3 linked regions of the Homo sapiens genome follow. The protein of the gene in region 2 interacts with the protein of the main gene of each other region in a biochemical or structural test. Each region holds a gene or a part of one and is shown on either strand. Other genes may lie near its edges.

The links.
Region 1: the proteins of UBE3C (region 2) and BRAF form a complex in vitro, tested with the Homo sapiens proteins (one study listed by BioGRID).
Region 3: of the proteins of UBE3C (region 2) and CAND2, one has a biochemical effect on the other in vitro, tested with the Homo sapiens proteins (one study listed by BioGRID).

Annotation. Positions count from the first base shown.
Region 1 is NC_000007.14:140,732,826-140,739,929, forward strand, and holds part of BRAF (serine/threonine-protein kinase B-raf), read right to left. Parts: coding exon 6,987-7,104; intron 1,946-6,986; coding exon 1,772-1,945; 3' UTR 1-1,771. UniProt on the Homo sapiens protein: Protein kinase involved in the transduction of mitogenic signals from the cell membrane to the nucleus. Phosphorylates MAP2K1, and thereby activates the MAP kinase signal transduction pathway. Phosphorylates PFKFB2.
Region 2 is NC_000007.14:157,134,414-157,141,972, reverse strand, and holds the start of UBE3C (ubiquitin-protein ligase E3C), read right to left. Parts: upstream 3,048-7,559; 5' UTR 2,701-3,047; coding exon 2,635-2,700; intron 2,184-2,634; exon of another isoform or gene 1,958-2,183; coding exon of another isoform or gene 1,955-1,957; intron 1-1,954. UniProt on the Homo sapiens protein: E3 ubiquitin-protein ligase that specifically catalyzes 'Lys-29'- and 'Lys-48'-linked polyubiquitin chains.
Region 3 is NC_000003.12:12,791,886-12,799,782, forward strand, and holds the start of CAND2 (cullin-associated NEDD8-dissociated protein 2), read left to right. Parts: upstream 1-4,794; 5' UTR 4,795-4,835; coding exon 4,836-4,903; intron 4,904-5,320; exon of another isoform or gene 5,321-5,551; intron 5,552-7,897.

The sequences.
Region 1 (7,104 bases), about 16 Mb from region 2:
TGGCCAAACATTTGGAGCATTCCACAAAGTCAATTTTGTAAAAACTTTGTTAGTTACATGCTTGCTAGTCTTCTATTTGTGAATGAATAAAACCCTATCTAACAATTACTAATAATCATATATTTAATGCCACTGGAGGATTTAAAAATCATATACTTAGATATTTTCCAATAGTTGTACTTCTTTATTCCTTAGTATCATTTTTAAAAATACGTGAAATGTTCCTTTTCATTTTCTTAACTAAAGTCATGAATCAATTCTGATTCATAATGGCATTACTTATCTTAAGCTACCCAAATGAGGGGTTAAAGATTTGCCGTAATTATTATTGAGTGATTTTCCTGGATGACATCTAAGTATTCAAATAAAGAAAATGTTTCAAAAATTTATTTGTGGGTACTTAAAAACTAAATTATCATTAATTTAAAGTCTTCTCAATTTCCTTCTTTATTGACTTCAAGGAGGCATTTATGCAGATATGTGTTTACTGGAAGAACCTTGATCTATTGGCTACATTTAAAAATCATGACAAAACCAAATTGAGTAAGTGAAGATATAGTTAAGAGGCTGACAGTGAAGCAGAGATGGCCAAATCTTTGATAGGACCACGTGCTGTTGCTTTCTACTTTTGATTCCCTCTGAATCACAGTAAGAATACACTGACCACCACATTACAGTCATTTTCTACACAACAAAGTGTAAGTACTAAAGAACCCTAACAAATACTTCATACCATTGAATGAAAAAAGGAGAAGAGCATTCATTCATCATAAGTAGAATCTTGCTGGGCAAAGAATATAAGGAGGACAGAACATGAGACACAATGATAAGGTGATTGCTAAAATATGCATCATGAGAGGTAAGAATAATCTAATAACAACTTTAAAAAATCTATTACCTGGTGTTTGGCAACCAGAGGTATCTCAAAGAAAAACACACCTAAAAGTTCTCACAGAATTCTGTGAAGATTTTTTGCAGGGGAGAGATTGGGTGTGAAGGGAGCAATGCGTTTGCAACAAAATTTGACTTCTACATGAGCGAGACATCCTTAATGTATTTTAAAAAAAGCTATTTAAAAGAAACTCCAATTTATAACATTTTCCCGCTAAAAATCCGAAGTTAAGACATTTTACTCATGTCAAACGTGCCACTCCTCAGCAATATTTTTGGTCACCTGCACTCAAAATTTATAAAAAGAAACTTAGTTTATTGCTTCAAGGAAATAAAAGACATCCACATTTTCCAAATTGTTATAAAAAGAAATAGTTATAGAAAAATTATTAAGAATAATAATAGAATTATTAAATTCTACTGACTTCCTAAATTAGATCTGTTCAGTTTGCCTTATCTAACCCAGGCTAACCGACTGCCAACTTCTCACCTGCAAACACAGGCATAGGTAGGGTCTTCTTCTGGAGTCCCTAGTGGACATGTGATAGCTGGCAACAAAAGTTGCATGAGAAACTGAAGTTTACTACTTAAAATAACCAAGTGAATGATACAAACCCGGAACAGAAAGTAAAGCCTCTAGAAGAGGCTCTGCCAATTTTTAGCAATGTCTATGTATTTTAACCCTTGGATGTTAAAAATCCAATGTTAAGTATAAATTTTAGTTTGGGGAAAAATTATATCTAGTCTTTAACCACACAAGTGTTCTTTGGTTCACCTTAAAAAAAAAGAGAGTATTTTATTCAATTTAACATATAAGCAAACATATGTTCATTTATTTTCCTTTTGTTGCTACTCTCCTGAACTCTCTCACTCATTTGTTTCAGTGGACAGGAAACGCACCATATCCCCCTGCCTGGATGGGTGTTTTTGGAGAAGCACAAGCATATAGACTAAAATCCTCTGTTTGGAAACCAGCCCGATTCAAGGAGGGTTCTGATGCACTGCGGTGAATTTTTGGCAATGAGCGGGCCAGCAGCTCAATAGAGGCGAGAATCTACAAAAAAAAAAAGAAAAAAAAAAGAAAAAAAAAGAAAAAAGAAAAAAAAAGAAAGAAAGAAAAAGAAAAAACAGAAAGAAGAATGAAAATCTGGGTGGTATAAATCTTTAAGAGTCCCATCACACTTTACAAGAAAGCACCTGAAATCTTACATTGTTTTCAGCATTGTCATAAATGCTTGGGAAAATATTTGTAAATAATTGGTATTTTTTCTTAAGAAGAAACTCTCTCTGTAAATTAAATGGGGAGAGTAATTCTTAGTCAGCTTTTATTTATATTTTAGATCATTTGTTAGTCTTGAAACAGTAAATAATAGAAATTTAAAACCAATTTTATACCTTTTTGTTATAGACCACAAGTCTCTTTTGGGAAGAAGATGGAGTATAAATAAGTAAAGCACTTTATGACTATCTCTAAACAGAATTATCACAGCTACTTGCCCTTTAAAGAAACCTAGCCATGGGAAATGTTTTACATACACCTAATTGAAAGCAGAACCTCACAGACCCAGAGTGCTAGTAGCACATGAGAAGTGACAGGGGACAACCCAAGAGCAAAGATAGGAGAACTCGACAAATAGACCCCAATATATAAAATGCAGAAATTCACAATTTTAAGGCACAAAGAAACAGGTTATAATCCTTGAAGGCATACAGCATGATAATGCATGTTCATAATCATGAAACATGTTTAAAGGGCTTGGCATAATGCCTGGCCTATAATAAGCACTCAATAAAACCTTAGCAGCTATTATTATTACTTTTGTTATTGTCCTGAGATACCAATTTTTTTTTTTTTTTGAAACGGAGTCTCGCTGTTGTCAACCAGGCTGGAGTGCAGTGGCACAATCTCAGCTCACTGCAACCTCCCCCTCCTGGGTTCAAGCGATTCTCCTGCCTCAGCCTCCTGAGTAGCTGGGATTACAGGAGCGCACCACCATGCCCAGCTAAATTTTTGTATTTTTAGCAGAGACAGGGTTTCACCACGTTGGCCAGGCTGGTCTCAAACTCCTGACCTCAGGTGATCTGCCTGCCTCGGCCTCCCAAAGGGCTGGGATTACAGACATGAGCCACCATGCCTGGCTGAAAATTGTTTTTAAAAGTTAAATTTTTTTTAAAAAGTAATCTTTATGATGATTAGTATAAGACAAAGAAGTAAGCAGTTGCAAAAAATTGTAAATTCCAAGTATAACATGCAAATAAAAATTAAAATACTATAGAAATGTATAAAGAGTATAAGGCTCTCAAATCCTGCTCTCCAGGGATAACCACTGTTAGAGTCTATACTTTCTTCTGTACCTTTTTTTTTTTTTTTTGAGATGGAGTCTCACTCTATTGTCCAGGCTGGAGTGCAGTGGCGCGATCTCAGCTCACTGCAACCTCCGCCTCCCAGGTTCAAGCGATTCTCCTGCCTCAGCCTCCCGAGTAGCTGGGATCACAGGCGTGTGCCACCACGCCCGGATAATTTTGTATTTTTAGTAGAGACGGGTATCACCATTTTGCCCAGGCTGGTCTCGAACTCCTAACCTCAACTGATCCACCCACCTTGGCCTCCCAAAGTGCTGGGATTACAGGTGTGAGTCACTGCGCCTGGCCTCTTCAGTACCTTTTTTTATGTATAAAAATACATACATGAAAACAAGGCCCACCTGAACACCACTTTTTTTTTTTGGAGATGGAATTTCACTCTTGTTGCCCAGGCTGGAGTGCAATGGTGCGATCTCGGCTCACCGCAACCTCCGCCTCCTGGGTTCAAATGATTTTCCTGCCTCAGCCTCCCGAGTAGCTGGGATTACAGGCATGTGCCACCACGCCTGGCTAATTTTGTATTCTTAGTAGAGTCAGAGTTTCTCCATGTTGGTCAGGCTGGTTTCGAACTCCCAACCTCAGGTGATCCGCCTGCCTCGGCCTCCCAAAGTGCTGGGATTACAGGCGTGAGCCACCGTGCCTGGCCTCTGTTTAACCTTTTAAAGTGGTTATCAGGCTGGGCACTGGGGCTCACGCCTGTAATCCCAGCACTTTGGGAGGCTGAGGCGAGAGGATCGCTTGAGGCCAGGAGTTCAAGACCAGCCAGGGCAACATAGTGAGAATCTATCTCTACAACCACCACCACCACCACCACAAGAAATTAGCTGGGTGTGGTGATAGGCACCTGCAATCCCAGCTACTTAGGAGGCTGAGGTGAGAGGATCGCTTGAGCCCAGGAGTTTGAGGCTGCAGTGGGCTATGATCATATTACTGCACTCCAGCCTGGGCAACAGAACAGGCCCAGCCTATAAAAAAAAAAAATGAGGTATCATACTACATTTTGTTTTCTGTCTTGTTTTCTTTTTCTCTCACCAATATCCATGTCATCAATACAAAACTAACTTAATCTTAATGTCTTTTTCTTATTATAGTAAACATTCTTATATATATCTGAATACTTATGAAATAGGTTACATAGCACAGATTTTTAGAAGTATTTTGAATTTATGGATTCTACCAAGGTCTTCCAAAATGCTGCCTTCCACCAAACCTTTAAAATTTTACATAGAATGCTCCTCCTCACTTCCCAACATTGTTCCCAGTGCTGGATATTACCAACCTGAGAGGCGAAATTAAAATATATTTCACTGTTGTGTCTTTGCATTTTACTGACTGCCATGGAAATATTTACACCTTTTCCTAAGTTCATTCACCATTTGTATTTATTATGTGAATCACCTGTTCATATTCCCTTTGCCCATTTTCTATTGTTTGTTACTTATTGATTTGGAGGAGTCCTTTGTATATTATAAACATTTACTTTTTGTTATATATGCTACAATTATTCTTTTTATCTTTCAATGTTATTTTTCTATATAGAAGTTTAAAAATTTTTAATGTACTCACATCTGCTAATTTTTTCCTTCTGAATTTTGTCTATTAAGAAAGCCTTTCCTACCTCAAAACTATAAAAATGATTTCATATTTTATAAAACATATAGATCTTCAGCCATCTAAAATTTATGTGGCATATAACAGTATGGTGTGAAAAGATATCCTGTAACAAAAATTTCAAAATAACACTTTAAAGGGATAGCCTCCAATAATCTGGAAAGTTCACATATGCACTTCAGTTTTTGAAACCATGTAATTAATGAAATGTTATATTTAGAAGTATGGAGCTAAGCATTTTGCCCCTTTTAATATCATTTAAAAAGTGGGCCTAAGGATGTACTTTGCATTATTAATGTCAATAAACATTCTAAGTAAGAACCCGAGCACCATGACGTGAAAAGAGAACATGGGACAGGGTCATGCTGAAGCTGCTCAGCAGCACTTGTCTCTCACCAGGACAGTCTCAACCCAGAGGTTTCCTGACTTAGAGAAACAAATAAAAAAATAAAAAGAAAAAATAAAAACTCTTCCTCAAAGGAACAGTAACTTTGAAACCTGATAAATGAAACTTATATCTACCCAGCCAACCACTTAGCTTTCCCTTTCTTTTCTTAGGCAACACCCTGACAGACTTGTTAAAACCATCAATTTTATCTTCTTTCATTCTTTAGAGAAGAATAACATTTTTTAGATTTAAAAATAAAGGATGAGTGAATCTAATTCCTGTAACATTGACTTCTGTCTGAGTTACTCAGCTAGGACTGGGCATTCAAAGGCCTAAGAGTTCATACATGAACACTCCAGTAATTATGGTAGCAGGGTTACTATGGGAAATAGCACTTCCCACTTGAAACTGTACTGATTCATCAAGGCATATTTATCCAGTGCTATCAGGAGCTCCCTAAGTATCAGAAAACATTGCATTTATATTATAATATCTACTACAGCTAAACTCTGTAAGCTAGTTGAGGTATTTAGATATTTTTGTTTTGTTTTGTTTTAAACAGAGTCTCATTCTGTTGCCCTGGCTGGAATGCAGTGGTGTCATCTCAGCTCATTACAATCTCCACCTCCTGGGTTCAAGCGATTCTCATGTCTCAGCCTCCTGAGTGGCTGGGATTACAGGCTCCTGCCACTATGCCCAGCTAATTTTTGTATTTTTAGTAGAGACGGTTTTCACCATGTTGGCCAGGCTGGTCTCGAACTCCTGACCTCAACTGATCTGCCTGCCTTGGCCTCCCAAAGTGTTGAGATTTGTAAGCCACGACACCTGGCCTTAGTTACAGTTCTTTTTGAAATTTGTTAACTTAAGGCTTTATCCTTCCAATATGGAAAAAAAAAAAAAAAAGCAGTGAGTTATCAAGAATTAGGTAAAGGCAGGCTGAGCTGACAAATGCCTTACTGCCTTTTCCTTTTTCTGCATCAGGCAGAAATGCCCCTCAAAAAGACCCAGTATTAAAGGAAAGCTTGAATCTGTTTACCACCAAGAAGAAATAAAGCAGTGGTTCACAAAATGTGGTCCGTGGACCACCAGGGGATCCACGAGGTCAAAACTATTTTTGTAATAACAATAAGATATCATTTGCCTTTTTTACTGTCATTATTTTACAAGCGTTAAGTAGAGTTTTTAGGGGTGACATGATGTGAGATATTGCAATGTGAGTGCAAAAGCGGAGAATCCAGCTGTCTTCTTTTTGCAAAGGGATTTGCAAAAAAAGTAAAACAATACAACTCCTCACTAATTTTTTTCTCTTAGATAATAGAACTGTTTTTTTCTAAATATTATTTAACATATTGGTTTACTATGTTTAATTCATTAATATTTTAAAAAATAGTTTTAATTTCTAATAAGGAATTAAAACTTATATAAACAAAAGCTCTTTGTGGGGGGGGGGGTCTTCGATAATTTTTAAATGTGTAAAAGAGTTCAAAGACTGAGAAGTCTGAGAACTGATGGACAAATGCAAAGTCTTTCTGAATATTTTGTATTAGGACCCAAAATTTCTAGGTGTGCCACTGCTCAACCCTCATGAAGCCATCTTAATGTGTTTTCTTGTCTGGAGTCTGCACATAGAATCCAAACTCATGAAATACACACTGTGTGCCCAAAAAAGTGCTCAGAAATCTGTCTATGAATGTTAGTCTGTTCTTTTGGATAGCATGAAGCTTTTACTTACTTGGGGAAAGAGTGGTCTCTCATCTCTTTTCTTTTTGAGGCACTCTGCCATTAATCTCTTCATGGCTTTTGGACAGTTACTCCGTACCTTACTGAGATCTGGAGACAGGTATCCTCGT
Region 2 (7,559 bases):
CAACAGCTGAACATGCGTATCATCTAGGACCCAGCACAAGAGTATTATGTGCACCAAAAGGCACACACAGCAAAGGTCTGTAAGAAAACAGAATCAGCCACGGTGCGTTCACACAAAGGGCAATGCCGTGCACCGAGGCGGATGGAGTCCACCTCTCAGACAGAAGCCAAGCCAAAGCAGCCGGGCACAAACGACAAGTGGTGAGTGGCTCCATGCCCCTGAAGTTCAACAGGTAACGCTCATCTACAGTAATGGAGGTCAGAAGGACAGTCACCTTTGTGGGGCTACAGACATACATGGCATAATGACCTCTCAGTCTGTCGACAACAGACCACATATACACCGTGGTCCCATAAGATTATAATTTGTATTTTTACTGTATCTACGTTTGGATGCACAGACACTCACCATTGCATGAAGAGCTGCCTACAGTATTCAGCACAGAAACACGCTGTCCAGGTGTGTAGCATAGGGGCAACGGGCTGTACCAAGCAGCTAGGTGTGCAGTGGGCAACACTGGCTATAGGTTTCTGTTAAGTGCACTCTAGGACGGTCCCACAACAACCAACTGGACTAGTGACAGCGTCCCCCTCTTTAAGTCACATATGACTGTAATGAATGGGTGAGAGTGCAGGGGAGCCTCTGGAATGCTGGGGATGGTCTTCCTTTGATGTGAGTGGTGTTCCATCTACAGGAGAGTGTCCATATGCAAAAATCCTTCAAGCTGTACATACAGCTGGCTCCCCACCCAGATTCCTTAACCAGGCCAGGGCACCCATGCCCCAGCTGCTGCCAGTTCCTACTAAGGGCTCTTTACTGCCACTCTCTCCCAGAAGAATGGCCCTCGGCTCAGGGTTAGCAGTGCCACACTCCCACCCTCATCCCGGAGGGGCAGCAGCCTGCAGCCACCAACCCCTCTGCCGCAATTAGGGCCAATTGTAGCATGCTCCTGGTGAGATGGGGTTAACGCTAGCCTCCAGCTGAGACGCCTTTTCCTTCCCTACCCAGCTTCCCTCTCGCCCTTCCTCCTCAATTTCACTTGCACAAGGATCTCTTTAGTGTTTGTGAACCTGACTGTATCTTAAGTTATACCTCAATAAAAAGAGTTTTGTTTTTAAAGGGGTGATTCTTTTACACAGCTCGTGCTATCTTCCCTTGAGATTCTGATCAACAGTTAAGAAATCTCACTCCCTCAGAGCAGAGATGCACTCCTTGGTGAAAAGGGACCAACATCCGTGGCCCGTGGGGTGTTCCTGCCTGCAACAGAGGCCGCGCGGCGCTGTGTAAATGGCATGGAGTCTCAGATGGTCTGCCACTAGCTTGCTGTGTGAATGGGCACTCCTTCAAATGTTCTGCAGCTCACCTTCCGAACTTGTAAGCAAGGCGATTTGGCCCTGAGATTCTCTGAAGTCTCTCCTAACTGTAGAAATCCTTTGATCTCATAAAACATTTTCATTAACGTGGAAGACCCTAAGTGCTACCACGACCACCCTTAACTGCACAGTACTTAGTTCTGGAGCACAAGTGACTTCCAAGCAATCACCATCACACGAACCTCAAAGCTGAAAAATTATCAGCACACTTCTCTCCCAACTCTTTACCCAGGTTCCCTTCTAACCTCAGAAACCACCAAACACAGCCCCACAGCACAATCTTAATAACAGCAGTTCCTCCTTGGCCTGCCAGCACCCACTCTGCGTTATGTGCCTACCTGGTGGTTGTGATATACAGAATATACTGATAGACAAGAAAAACTAGGTGAAGCATTTTAAAGAACATTTCAGAAATGATGGGAAGGGGTGGGAAGGGAGGGGCGGGAACAAGACCACACAGTGTTCAACGACTTAGCGGTTCCAGTGAACCAACTGATGCCCGTCTTCAGGGACAGACAGCTAGAAATTCTAGACTAGAACAGAGGCGTCATGGTTTGCCTACCCTTATCCTAAACAATTACCATGCGAACAACTTAATGTCGATCACAACAGATGTAAGTCCGGAGTCTCTCCACAGTTTCCAGGAGGCTGGTGGCAAATAATTGCCCTCGTCTTGGATTCAAACACGTGGCTATTCATGAGACGTTCTGCCTCTACTTTAGAGATTATCGACATCAGCAAATGCGTGCCGTTCACCTTCTACAACCGAAAACGCCCTTCAGGTGGCATTCGAAAAGCAGCCACTCCCTGATGCCATGCGGGAGCGAGCATGGAAAGCGCATTTCTGAAAGGAAACACCCAGAAAGGGTAAGTTCACCTTGGGTGGCACAAAGCGTGCCAGGGTTCACCGGCCTCCTGCATGGAAGGGAGCCACGGCCAGCGCGCCCGGGTCCCGAAGCGCAGTGGACAGGCAAGGCCCCCACGGGCGCGGCCTCGAGTTCCAGCCAGGGAGGCCCCGAGTCCAGTCCTAAGCCCCAGCCAGAGTCCTGGCCCCAAGTCTCGGCTCCGAGTCCAACCCCGAGTCCCGGCCGGAGCGGCCCCGAGATCCGGCGAGGAAGCCCCGAGTCCCCGCCAGGGAGGCCCCGAATCCAGCCCCAAGTCTCGGCCCCGAGTCCAGCCCCGAGTCCAGCCCCGAGTCCCAGCCCCGAGCCCCGGCCGCGCAGGCCCCGAGCCGAGGGCGCCCCGCCAGCCCGGCCCTCACCTTCCTGCTCGCGCCGCCAAGGGACACCTTGGGCCGCGTCTTGAAGTCGCCTTCGAAGCTGAACATCCTGGCAGCCTAGCCCATGTGCGGGCAGCGCCGCCGCGGAAGCAGCCGGGCGGGCGGGGCACGGGGCGGGCTGGGAGGCTCTCGGCGCCCGCCCGCCCGGCCCGGGGCAGCGAGGACGCGGCGGCCGGGAGGCGACCCGAGCCCGCCCCCGGGCTGTACCCTCCCAGCCCTGCCCTGGGGCGGGAGGGGCGGCAATACTGGAGGGGCGGCCCTGCCTCGCCTGCCCCTCATCCACGCCGGCCACAGCTCGGGCCGCTGCAGGGGCGCCCAGCGGGCAGCAAACCCGGCGCTTGCACCTGGAACTGCCGCCTCGGGAGGGAAGATGGCGGTCAGCCGTCAGTGCGTGCGCGGCCCTGCAGACGTGCGCGGCCCTGCAGACGTGCGCGGCCCTGCAGACGTGCGCGGCCCTGCAGACGTGCGCGGCCCTGCAGACGTGCGCGGCCCTGCAGACGTGCGCGGCCCTGCAGACGTGCGCGCCTCCGCCATTGACGGCACGGCGCTCTTCCCGGCGGTTCCGCTAGCGTGCGCGGCCCCGCAAGGCGCGCTGGAGCCTGGGGAGGACGGCGGTGACGCGGGCTGGGCACGCGGCGGAGTGGGCGGGGCCTGGTGCGTGCTGGGGGAGCGCGGCGAGGGGCGCGGGAGGTGTTGGGTGCGGGGCAGGGTGCGGGAAAGGTGGAGTGCGAGGCACGGGCCGGGATGGGGTGCAGGGCAGGGTGCGGGGTGCAGGGTGGGGTGCAGGGGCCGGCACCCGGAGCGGGCTGGGAGCGGCCAATCTGGTGCCAGACTCGAGTGAGGCGGGAAAGGAGCAGCTAGGCCCAGCCCGTCTGTTTACATCCCACCTGTTCTATGTCTATGACACGCACAGACGGACGTAAATATTTACCATGTACACAGACATGCGCAGATTTGCCTCATACATAGCACACATATGCATCTATAGATACAGCATCAATACATATAAATATGTATCATGTACACATACCTGTGTATGCAAAAATATTTGCTCCTGGACTTACCATGGGGCTTTGTCCTGATAAACCCATCGTAAGATGAAAATATTGTAAGTTGAAAATGTATTTAATGCTACAATAAACCCATCACAAAGTCAAAAAATTGTAAGTTGAGCCATTTTAAGTTGGGGACCACCTATACATAAACATGTGTCTTATATCCACACATACGTATACATAATATCTCATATACATGTGCATATACATATATATCATACACGATTGAAACCAATTTCTAAAAATTGATTTTTGGTTGTATACAAGGTGTGCAACATGATGATTTCATAGAGACATTGTGAAATGACTACCCTCTTTGTGTGTGTGTGGTAAGAGTACATAAAATCTACTCTCTTAGCAAAATTTCAACACACAATACGATATCATCTACAGTCGTCCTGCGGCCGAGCACGGTCGCTCACGCCGGTAATCCCAGCACTCTGGGAGGCCAAGGCGGGCGGATCACCTGAAGTGAAAAGTTCGAGACCAGCCTGGCCAACATGGTGAAACCCCATCTCTAATAAAATACAAAACTTAGGCCGGTGTGGTGGTGCACGCCTGTAGTCCAAGCTACTCTGGAGGCTAAGGCAGGAGAATTGCTTGAACCCAGGAGGCAGAGGTTGCAGTGAGCTGAGATCGTGTTATTGCACTCCGGCCTGGGCGACACAGAGACTCCGTCTCAAAAAAAAAAAAAAAAAAAGAAATACAGTCCTGGCGCCGCCTGTAATCCCAGCACTTTGGGAGGCTAAGGTGGGTGGATCACCTCAGGTCAGGAGTTTGAGACCAGCCTCGCCAACATGGGGAAACCCCGTCTCTACTAAAAGTACAAAAATTAGCTGAGCATGGTGGCATGTTTATGTATAGGTGGTCCCCCACTTAAAGTTCTTAAACTTCTAGCTGCTTGGGAGGCTGAGACAAGAGACTCGCTTGTGTCTGCGAGGCGGAGGTTGCAATGAGCTGAGATCGTGCCACTGTACTCCAGCCTGGGTGACAGAGTGAGACTCTGTCTCAAAAAATAAAAATAAACAGGCCGGGCGCGGTGGCTCACGCCTGTAATCCCAGCACTTTGGGAGGCCGAGGCGGGCAGATCACGAGGTCAGGAGATCGAGACCATCCTGGCTAACACAGTGAAACCCCGTCTCTACTAAAAATACCAAAAAAATTAGCCAGGCATAGTGGCAGGCGCCTGTAGTCCCAGCTACTTGGGAGGCTGAGGCAGGAGAATGGCGTGAACCCGGGAGGCGGAGCTTGCAGTGAGCCGAGATCGCGCCACTCGCGCCACTGCACTCCAGCCTGGGGAACAGAGGGAGACTCCGTCTCAAAATAAATAAATAAAAATAAAAATTAATAACAATAATAATAAACAGTCCTCCTGTGAACATTAGATCTGTGGGCATATTTATGCTACATAACTGCGAGTGTGTTTCCTTTTACATATCTCTCCCCATTTTTCCCAGCCCCAGGAAGCACCACTCTACTCTCTGTTTCTAGATAGGATTTGACTGTTGGATTCCACGTATAAGTGAGCTCATCAGTATCTTTCTCTCTGTCTCGCTTATTTAACTTGGCATCATGTCCTCCAGGTTCACACATGTAGCCAATGACAGGAATTCCTTCTGTATCTTGCTGTTATGAATAATGTTGCAATGAACTGAGAGGAGCTCCAGAAGAAACAATTTCATTTCCTGTAGATATATAACCAGCAGAGGGATCGCTGAGTCATGTGGTAGTTCCAGTTTTGTTTTTTTTGAGGAAACTCCATACTGTTTGCCATAATGGCTGTACCTCCAACGATGGGCAAAGGCTTCTATTTCCCCACACCCTCACCAACACTTGTCTTTTGGATAATAGCCATGCTAATACTGTGAGGTGATATTTCATTGTGGTTTTGTTTTGCATTTCCTTGACGGTTATTGACGATGAGCACCTTTTCATTACCTCTTGGCCGTTTTTATGTCTATTTGGAAAAATTCAGGCCCTTTGCTCGTTTTTTAATTGGGAAAAGCCAAATTTTAAAACTAATATTTGTCATTACTATGTGGAATGCACTGTTTTTTTTAAAAAAAATTCTGTCTTTTTATTTTATTTTATTATTATTTTTTTGAGACAGGGTCTCACTGTATTGCCCAGGCTGGAGTGCTGTGGTACGATCACAGCTAACTGCAGCCTCAACCTCCTGTGCTCAGGCAATTCTCCCAGTTCAGCGTCCCAAATGGCTGGACCAGGTGTGTGCCAGTAGCCTGGCTTTCCCCCCAACCCCCCAGCTTTCCCCCCCCCCCCACTTCTTGTAGAGGTGGGTCTCATTATGTTGCCCAGGCTGGTCTCAGATTCCTGGGCTCAAGAGATCCTCCTGCCTCGGCCTCCCAAAGTGCTGGGATTACAGGCATGAGCCACTGCACCCACTGTCGTCGTCTTCTTTTTAATGCTAGACGCAAAGCACTAAATACGTTTCACAATCCACTAATGGGTCTCAGCTCACAGTTTGAAAAAATCTGCCATATAAATTAAATATAGACAGATAGATGGTTAGAAAGATATACAAACACTCTACTGTTGTCTGAATGTTGGTGTCTCCCCAAAATCATAGTTTGAAACTTAGTCCCCAATGTGATCGTATTAAGAGGAGGGGCCATTAGGAAGTCTTATAGCATGAGGCTCCACCCCCATGAAGGAAATCAGTGCCCAAGGCAGCCTGTTTGTCCCTCCTGCCATGGGGAGACACAGCAAGAAGGCACCATCTATGAAGCAGAGTCCTCAGACGCAGAATGTGGGGTGCCTTGATCTTGGACTTCCCAGATTCCAGAGCTGTGAGAGATATATTTCTGTTGTCCAAAAATTACCCAGGCCAAGGCATTTTGTTATAGCAACCCAAATAGACTAAGGCACCCACACCCAGACACAAATGTGTGTGTGTATATATATGTGAACAAGGTCACAGTTCGTATATATGTATGAACTATCATAGTTCATACATATATTTGAACTGCAACAGTATAGAATGTATTTTTAATCATAAAATGTCCCAATTTTACCATTTTGAAAGCTTACAAATTTTGTCAATTAAAAAAGATATAACCTTTTGTTTTTACCTGTCAGGTTAGCAAAGATTTAAAATTGGTAATATCAATATTTGTGACCTCTGTAAGTCTGCTCTGAAGTCTCAGATTCTTTTTTTTTTTTTTTTTTTTTTGAGACAGAGTCTTGCTCTTGTTGCCCGGGTTGGAGTGCAATGGCGTGATCTTGGCTCACTGCAGCTTCCACCTCTCCACCTCCTGGGTTCAAGCGATTCTCCTGTCTCAGCATCCCGAGTAGCTGGGATTATAGGTGCGCTACCATGCCCGGCTAATTTTTGTGTTTTTAGTAGAGATGGGGTTTCACCACGTTGATCAGGCTGATCTTGGACTCCTGACCTCAGATGATCCGCCCGCCTTGGCCTCCCAAAGTGCTGGGATTACAGGCGTGAGCCACCGCGCCCAGCCTGAAGTCTGAGATTCTGCTTCGAATGAACCCTTCCAATGTCTGGACTAGGAGGAGGAGCAAGAATGCCCATGTGAATCTCACACCAACCTCAGTGTTGCTGGTAACTGGGGGGTGCTGTCCCACATCTGCTGGGCCTCTTTCAAATGTTCTGACCGGCCCACATGGGTAGGGAAGAAGTGCTCCTGACTGCACCTCTGCCCATCTCAACACCGCTGCCTGGCATCTGGTCTGTTTCCACAGTCAGCCCAGGGTGGGTGCTCCTCTGTGCTGAGGTCGGTGCGTCTGCTGGGTGGCCCTGCTCCATGAGCCACTTCTTCCCCTGGTGTCCACTGGAGAACCAGTGATGCCACAGGAAAATCTGTCTTATCAGGA
Region 3 (7,897 bases), on a different chromosome or scaffold from region 2:
CAATTTTCCTGCCTCGGCCTCCAAAGTAACTGGGATTACAGGTGCGCGCCACCACACCTGGCTAATTTTGTATTTTTAGTAGAGACGGGGTTTCACCATGTTATCCAGGCTGGTCTCGAACTCCTGACCTCAAGTGATCCACCCACCTCAGCCTCCCAAAGTGCTGGTATTACAGGCTAGAGCTACCGAGCCCAGCCCATTTCCCTCCTTTTTATTGAGGCAACAGTTACATATAGCAAAGTACAGCTTGATTAATTTTTACAAATATATACCTGTAATCATCACCCAATTCAAGAGTGTGGATTCAATTAGCCAGGTGTGGTGGTGTGTGCCTGTAGTCCCAGCTGCTCAGGTGGCTGAGACAGGAGGATGGCTTGAGCCCGGGAGGTGGAGGCTGCAGTGAGTGGTGATCATGCCACTGCACTCTAGCCTGGGCGACAGAGTGAGATGTTGTCTAAAAAAAAAAAAAAAGTATGTGAATCCAATCCTCAAATGAAACTGCTGTATTCTATTTCCATGACATAACCCGAATCTTCCCATCTTCGCCACCATTCCCCCAATGCAAACCACCCTCATTCTTTTTTCTTTTTTTTTTTCTTTGAGACAGAGTCTCGCTCTGTAGCCTAGGCTGGAGTGCAGTGGCCCATGATCTCCACTCACTGCAAGCTCTGCCTCCCGGGTTCACATCATTCTCCTGCCTCAGCCTCCTGAGTAGCTGGCACTACAGGTGCCCGCCACCACACCCGGCTAATTTTTTGTATTTTTAGTAGAGATGGGGTTTCTCTGTGTTAGCCAGGATAGTCTCGATCTCCTGACCTCATGATCTGCCTGCCTTGGCCTGCGAAAGTGCTGGGATTATAGGCATGAGCCACCATGCCCAGCCTCTTTTTCTTTTTTCTTCTTTTGAGATGGAGTCTGGCTCTGTTGCCCAGACTGGAGTGTATTGGTGTGATCTCGCTCACTGCAATCACCTCCGCCTCCAGGGTTCAAGCAATTCCCCTGCCTCAGTCTCCCGAGTAGCTGGGACTACAGGCGTGTGCCATCACACCCGGCTAATTTTTGTATTTTTAGTAGAGACAGGGTTTCACCATGTTGGCCAGGTTGGTCTTGAACTCCTGACCTCAGGTGATCTCCCAGAAGTGCTGGGATTACAGGCATAAGCCACCACGCCCGGCCCAAACCACCCTGATTCTTGATTGCGTGGACTGTTCAGCACTAAAGAGATCTTTCTAAAAAACCAGGCCAGGTGCAGTGGCTCACATCTGTAATCCCAACACTTTGGGAGGCCGAAGCAGGTAGATCACCTGAAGTCAGGAGTTCAAGACCAGCTTCTGGCCAACATGGTGAAACCCTGTCTCTACTAAAAATACAAAAATTAGCTGGGCATGGTGATGCGTGCCTGTAATCCCAGCTACTTGGGAGGCTGAGGCAGGAGAATTACTTGAGCCTGGGAGGTGGGGGTTGCAGTGAGCTGAGATTGCACCACTGCACTCCAGCTTGGGCAACAGAGCAAGATTCCATCTCAATAAATAACTGAATTAATTAAATAAATAAAATAAAATAAACTGATCTGGCTGGGCGCAGTGGCTCACACCTGTAATCCCAGCACTTCGGTAGGCTGAGGCGGGTGGATCACCTGAGGTCAGGAGTTCAAGACTATCCTGGCCAACATGGTGAAACCCCATCTCTACTAAAAATACAAAATTTTGCCGTGTGTGGCGGCGGGTGCCTGTAGTCCCAGCTACTCGGGAGGCTGGGGCAGGAGAACTGCTTGAACCTGGGAGGCAGAGGTTGCAGTGAGCCGAGATCACACAACTGCACTCCAGACTGGGCAACAGAGGGATACTCTGTCTCAAAAACAACAACAAAAACTGATCAAGTTACCTTCTTGCTTTACGCCATCCAGTGTTCCCTGGCGTTAGTGTTCCCACATAAAATTAGTGTTCCCATATAAAATACGAACTCCTTGCCTTGGCCTGAAAGGTTTCAAGTAATCTGGCCCCTGTCCACCTCTCTGTCCTCATTTCCTCAGTGGAAGACTGATCTCATTCCATTCCAGCCATAGCCCGCCCTCCCTCTCTCCCTCCCTCCCTTCCTCCCTTCCTCCCCTCCTTTTTTTTGAAACAGGGTCTACTTTGTCACCCAGGCTGGAGTGCAGTGGTGCGATCACAGCTTACTGCAACCTCTGCCTCCCAGGCTCACCTCTGCCTCCCAGGTTCAAGAGATTCTTCCACCTCAGCCCCCCAAGTAGCTGGGACTACAGGCGTGTGCCATCACACCCGGCTGATTTTTGCATTTTTTGTAGAGACAGGGTTTCACCATGTTGCCCAGGCTGGTCTTTAACTCCTGAGCTTATGTGATCCACCCACCTCAACCTCCCAAAATGCTGGGATTACAGGCATGAGCCACTGCGCCCAGCCAGCCACAGCCTTTTCTTTTCTTTCTTTCTTTCTTTCCTTTTTTTTGAGATGGAGTCTCGCTCTGTTTCCCAGGCTGGAGTGCAGTGGTGCCATCTTGGCTCACTGCAAGCTCCGCCTCCCGGGTTCACGCCATTCTCTTGCCTCAGCCTCCCGAGTAGCTGGGATTACAGGCGCCCACCATCACGCCCGGCTAATTTTTGTATTTTTAGTAGAGACGGGGTTTCACCTTGTTAGCCAGGATGGTCTCGATTTCCTGACCTTGTGATCCACCCGCCTCAGCCTCCCAAAGTGCTGGGATTACAGGCGTGAGCCACCGTGCCCGGCCCAGCCACAGCATTTTCTTAAACACATCAGGCTGGTTCCCACCTTGAGACCTTTTTTTTTTTTTTTTTTTTTGAGGCAGAATCTTGCTCTGTCGCCAGGCTGGAGTGCAGTGGCGCGATCTCGTCTCACTGCGAACTCTGCCTCCCGGGTTCACGCCATTCTCCTGCCTCAGCCTCCTGAGTAGCTGGGACTACAGGTGCCCGCCACCACGCCCGGCTAATTTTTTTGTATTTTTAGTAGAGACGGGGTTTCATCGTGTTAGCCAGGATGGTCTCGATTTCCTGACCTCGTGATCCTCCTGCCTCGGCCTCCCAAAGTGCTGGGATTACAGGTGTGAGCCACCGCACCCGGCCACCACCTCGGGACCTTTGCACCTGCTGCTCCCTCTGTCTGGGAAGCCCTTCCCTCAAAACTTTGCCCAGCTGCTTCATCTGTTGAGGTCTTAGCCCAAATGTCTCCTCCTCAAAAAGTGCCCTCCCTGACCTTTGCTGAAGTTGCCCCTCCACGCTCCAGGAACTCTCTATTTTATTTTCTGAAGAGCTCTTATTTTCCTTATCTAATCACTTTCTTCCTTCTTGCTGATTTCCTACACTAAAATGTAAAGTCCCCAGGGGGCAGGGGCCGTTTGTGTCTAACACCCTGCTGCGTTGCATCCTTGTTGTACAGATCTGCACTGTCCATTATGATAGCCACTACCCATAGTGGGCTATTTAAAGTTAAGTTAATGAAAAATAAATATAATTAAGAATTTGGTTCCCCAGTCACACTAATTCCATTTCAAGTGCTCAATAGCCACATGTGGCTAGTGGCTATCATATTAGATACTATACTGAAGATGTAGAACATTTTCAACATTGCAGTGTTCTATTAGCTTTGGTCTAGAACCTACGTACCTCATAATAACAGGTGTTCAAGGGGGGTGTCAATTTAATAAAGATTTTTTTTTTTTTTTTGAGACGGAGTCTCGCTCTGTCGCCCAGGCTGGAGTGCAGTGGCGCGATCTCCGCTCACTGCAAGCTCCGCCTCCCGGGTTCACGCCATTCTCCTGCCTCAGCCTCCCGAGTAGCTGGGACTACAGGCGCCTGCCACCACACCCGGCTAATTTTTTTGTATTTTTAGTAGAGACGGGGTTTCACTGTGTTAGCCAGGATGGTCGTGATCTCCTGACCTCGTGATCCGCCCGCCTCGGCCTCCCAAGTGAATAAAGATTTCTTTTATCCTTATCTTATGAGTGAGAAAAACATAGCCCAGAGAGGTTGTTTCATTATCCCAAGGTCACACAGCCAGGAAGGAGCCTAGCAGAGATTTGAAGCCAGGCTTGTCTGGCTCTGAAGCACACACTACTCCCTTTCCCATCCAGCAGCCTCCTGGCTGTTTATGGAAGGATTGCTGCGCAGGATATTAAGGGATCTGCAGTCAATCCTGACTCCATCCCAGATTCATTGGCTGTGTGACCCTCAGCAAATCCCTTTGCTTCTCGGCCTCAGTTGCATTGCTAAAAAAATGAAGAAACTGACCCTGCCGTCCTGAGGGTTGGGGATGCGAGGCAGGGGGCCTTGTGTGACTCAGTTCATTCCCCAGATCCTGTCTGGCTCAGGGGCGGGCAAGCATCGTGGGTGAGGGGTCTTTTGGTTGGCCTGACCAGCTTTGGTTGATAGCTCCTGTTTCTTGAATGCCTACAGATGAGAAAGCGGAGGTAAAGTAACTTGGCCAAGGCTACACAGCAGAAGAGGCAGAAGTGGGATTCGAACCTGAGACTCTATGATATTACGTCCATGCCGCAAGACAGAGCTGGCACCTACGGGAATAACAAGGAGGTGGTGGCAGGGTAGTGAGCTCCCCGTCTCTGGGGGTGTGTGCAATCCGGCGCTGCGCTGTCAGCAGGGCAAGGGCTGGGGCCGGGGCCAAGACCACCAAGCCAGGCCCAGGCCCGCCCGCCTCCCGCGGCCGCCACGGCCAAGGCGTGAGCACGGGGCGGGGCGGGAGCTGCTATTTCTGTCTGGTGAGCGCAGCCCGCGCAGCTGGCGAGGGAGGGGGCGCCCGCGCCGCCATATTCCCTCCCGCCGGCCGGCTCCGCGGCGCGCAGCCACCATGAGCACCGCCGCCTTCCACATCTCCAGCCTCCTGGAGAAGATGACGTCCAGCGACAAGGACTTCAGGTGCAGCCCGCCGCCGGCCCCCTTCTCTCCTTCCCGCTCTGAAGCCGGGGGCCTTCTTCCCCTCTCGAAGCGCCAGCCCATCCCCCATGACCATGCAGCCCCCTGCCTCTTCTCTCTTCTCCCTGCATTAAGCTGCCCCCCTCCCCACAGGCCCACTCCTGCCTCGTGGTCCCCACTGGAGCTCCGGCCGTTCTCCCCTAGGGGCCGTCCTGCCCCTCCGCGACTCCAGTCCCTGCTTCGTCTCCCACCGTGCAGGCTTCAGCCCTACCTCTCACCCCCGATCAGAGCCCCGGCTCCACCCCTCTGCACCCTGCCTCGGCCTCTCCTCCCTCGTGTGTGTCCGGCCCCCTTCTTCCCCCGCAGCTGATGCCCCAGCGCCCCCTCCCCCCCGCCCCCACCACCTTCAGCGAGCCCACAGTGAAGCCCTACGCCTCTCCCTGGGGACCCCAGCACCTGCCTCTCCTCCGCATTGAACCCGGACCCTTCCCGGGACCGCAACCCCCAGCTGACTTTCTCACTGGCACCCTCAGTGATGCCTCCTTCTCAACATCACCCGGACCCCTCCCTCCCCGTCTCCCTCCCCTCCTGCGATTGTTCAGACCCAGCCTAAAGGAGGGGGCTGGGCTGAGTCTGGCTTTCCAGTCACAGGTAGGTGATGGTTGGGGTGGGACCTTCTAGGTTTTGTGTGCCACTCTCCTTCCCCACTCCCTTTTTCCTTCTTTCCCCCTCTCACAGCATCACAGAACCACAGGAATAGAGCTGAAAAGAACGGTGGAAACATCTGGTCCAATGAGTTTCCACCTGCATTCCCTGGGGAAACTGAGGCCCAGGGAGGAAAAGGGATTGGCCCGTGGTCTCATGGCCAGTTCTGGCCCCTCCAGCTGAAAGAAGACCTTGGAGACTCAATGAACATTTTTTCACTTTGTCCCCATTTTACAGATAGGGAAACTGAGTCTCAGAGACATGAAGGGCGTAGGTTCAGTCACAGCGAGGAAGTGGGAGACTTAGTCCAAATCCAGGCCAGTCTAATACAGAGGCCAAGATCTTAGTGAGGTCCTCTGATTCCAGCCCCCTGACAGGTGAGGAGACAGACCTGCTCTGGTGGTCTGACTCCTACTCTTCTCCTGCAGCCCATTCCTCAGTACCCCTCAAGAGCCCCCCCACATTAATAGAGCCTGGGATCCAAGGTCTTGGCTTCAGATCCCAGCTGCCGTCACTCACTGGCCGTGTGACCATGGACAAGTAACTTAACCCCCATGAGTCTCCCTGTGCTTCTGTTTCTATAAAATGGGGATAACAGAACCCATCTCTGAGGGTTGGGGTAAGGATTAAATAAGATAGTACATGTGAAATGCTCAGGTTCATGGCAGGCACTAGGTCGGTGCTTCATAAACGGACACTGTTATGATTCTGTGCACATCCAAAATCTGCCACGCCCTGTCCCCTCTCTAGACCTTCACTAGGGGGATTCTTTGCTCTCCCTTGACCTCCTCCCTTCATCTGACAGCTCCTATAACTCTTGACCCCAGGCAGGATTAGGTACCTCCTTTCAGCTCCCATCATGCCTCCCCTCATGTTTCTGCTAGATCACTTTTCAGCCCTGGGAGACCCTGAGCTCCTGGGCCACTGGGACTATGCACTTCCTCTTAGTGCCCCAACACCTGTGCTGAGTACACGGTAGGTGCTTAGTGAATGTTCGCTGGGTCCCAGGCTCCCTACTGTGCACCCCACGTGTAATCTCAGTCCACCCATGGGTGGTAGTGATTGTTCTTCCTGTTTTCCGGAGGCTTGGAGGAGTGCAGTGACTTGCCCAAGGTCACAGAGCTGGCTAGTGGCCTAGGGGATTTGCGCTAGTGTCTCTCAGGCCTCTGGTCCAGTCTCTGGGAGAGGGAGTTGGCCCTGCCAGCTACAGCCCGAGAAGCCCTTTCAGCCTGTCTCTGCCAGTGGCCTGGAGAACACTTAAAACCACCCCAAGCATGTGAGAATGGTGTCTATTTTTAAAGTCCGAATACCAGGGTGCTGGGTCCTGCAGACCAGCTGTCCAGGCGTCCGTGTGGCCAAGGGTTTCAGCTGAGTTGCCTCTAGGGTTTCTCTGTAATGAAACTGAGACTGTCCTCTGGTTCCTGGAGCGGGGCAGCGACTGCAAATGGGGGTCCCAGGTGGGGTGGAGGGAGACCTTTGTTTCCTGTTCTTCCTGGGCCCTGGCTTTATGGGCAGGAGGTGCCCCATTACCACGGAGGCTCCAGCAGTCAAAACGAGTACCCTTGCAGGTCTTGCAGGAATTACCAAGTCATTTCTTGAAAACACAGTAGTATTATTGGTTGAAAAGCCAGGAGACCTGTGTGGTGGGCTGGTTTTCCGCCCAGTTTGCTGTTACCGTAGGCAGTTTGTGCAGCCTCCCTGAGCCTAGTTTTCTTACTACCTCATGCTAAGAGCTAGATTGTCCTATTGAAACCTCCCAAGGATACTATGAGGTAGGGCAAAGAAAAGTTCCCATTTTATATATAGAAAATCTGAGGCCCAGAGAAAAGGAGGTAGTTGCCCAATGTCACCTAGTTGATAAATGGCAAGACTAGTAAGTATACTCACTTAAAGCCAAACTTTGGTGCTCAAGCTCTTATCCACCAAATTATATACTTTTCCTTCTCTCTCCCATCCCTACACACATACACGTATAAAACATGGCTTGCTTTCTCCGAGAGCTAGTGTCTGCAGGAACCAGGGGTGTCTGAAATGCTGAGGCATACTTCAGAAGAGTTGGTTTCTGAATTCGGACTATTTGGCTGTAAGTTCTGTTAAGGGCTAGCTCTCTCACTACCTCTCCTCCTGCTCTCACCCTCCCTGACAAAGCCCTCTGCAGACCTGTTCTTTGTTGAGCCTGGAGTCCCAGAGATAAACCTGATGAGCCTCTGCCCTCAGTGAGTGTACAGTCCAATGGAGAAGATGCTCTGGTGGCCAGACTTGTATTGCAGTGTGAGAAGTGCTATAAAGGAG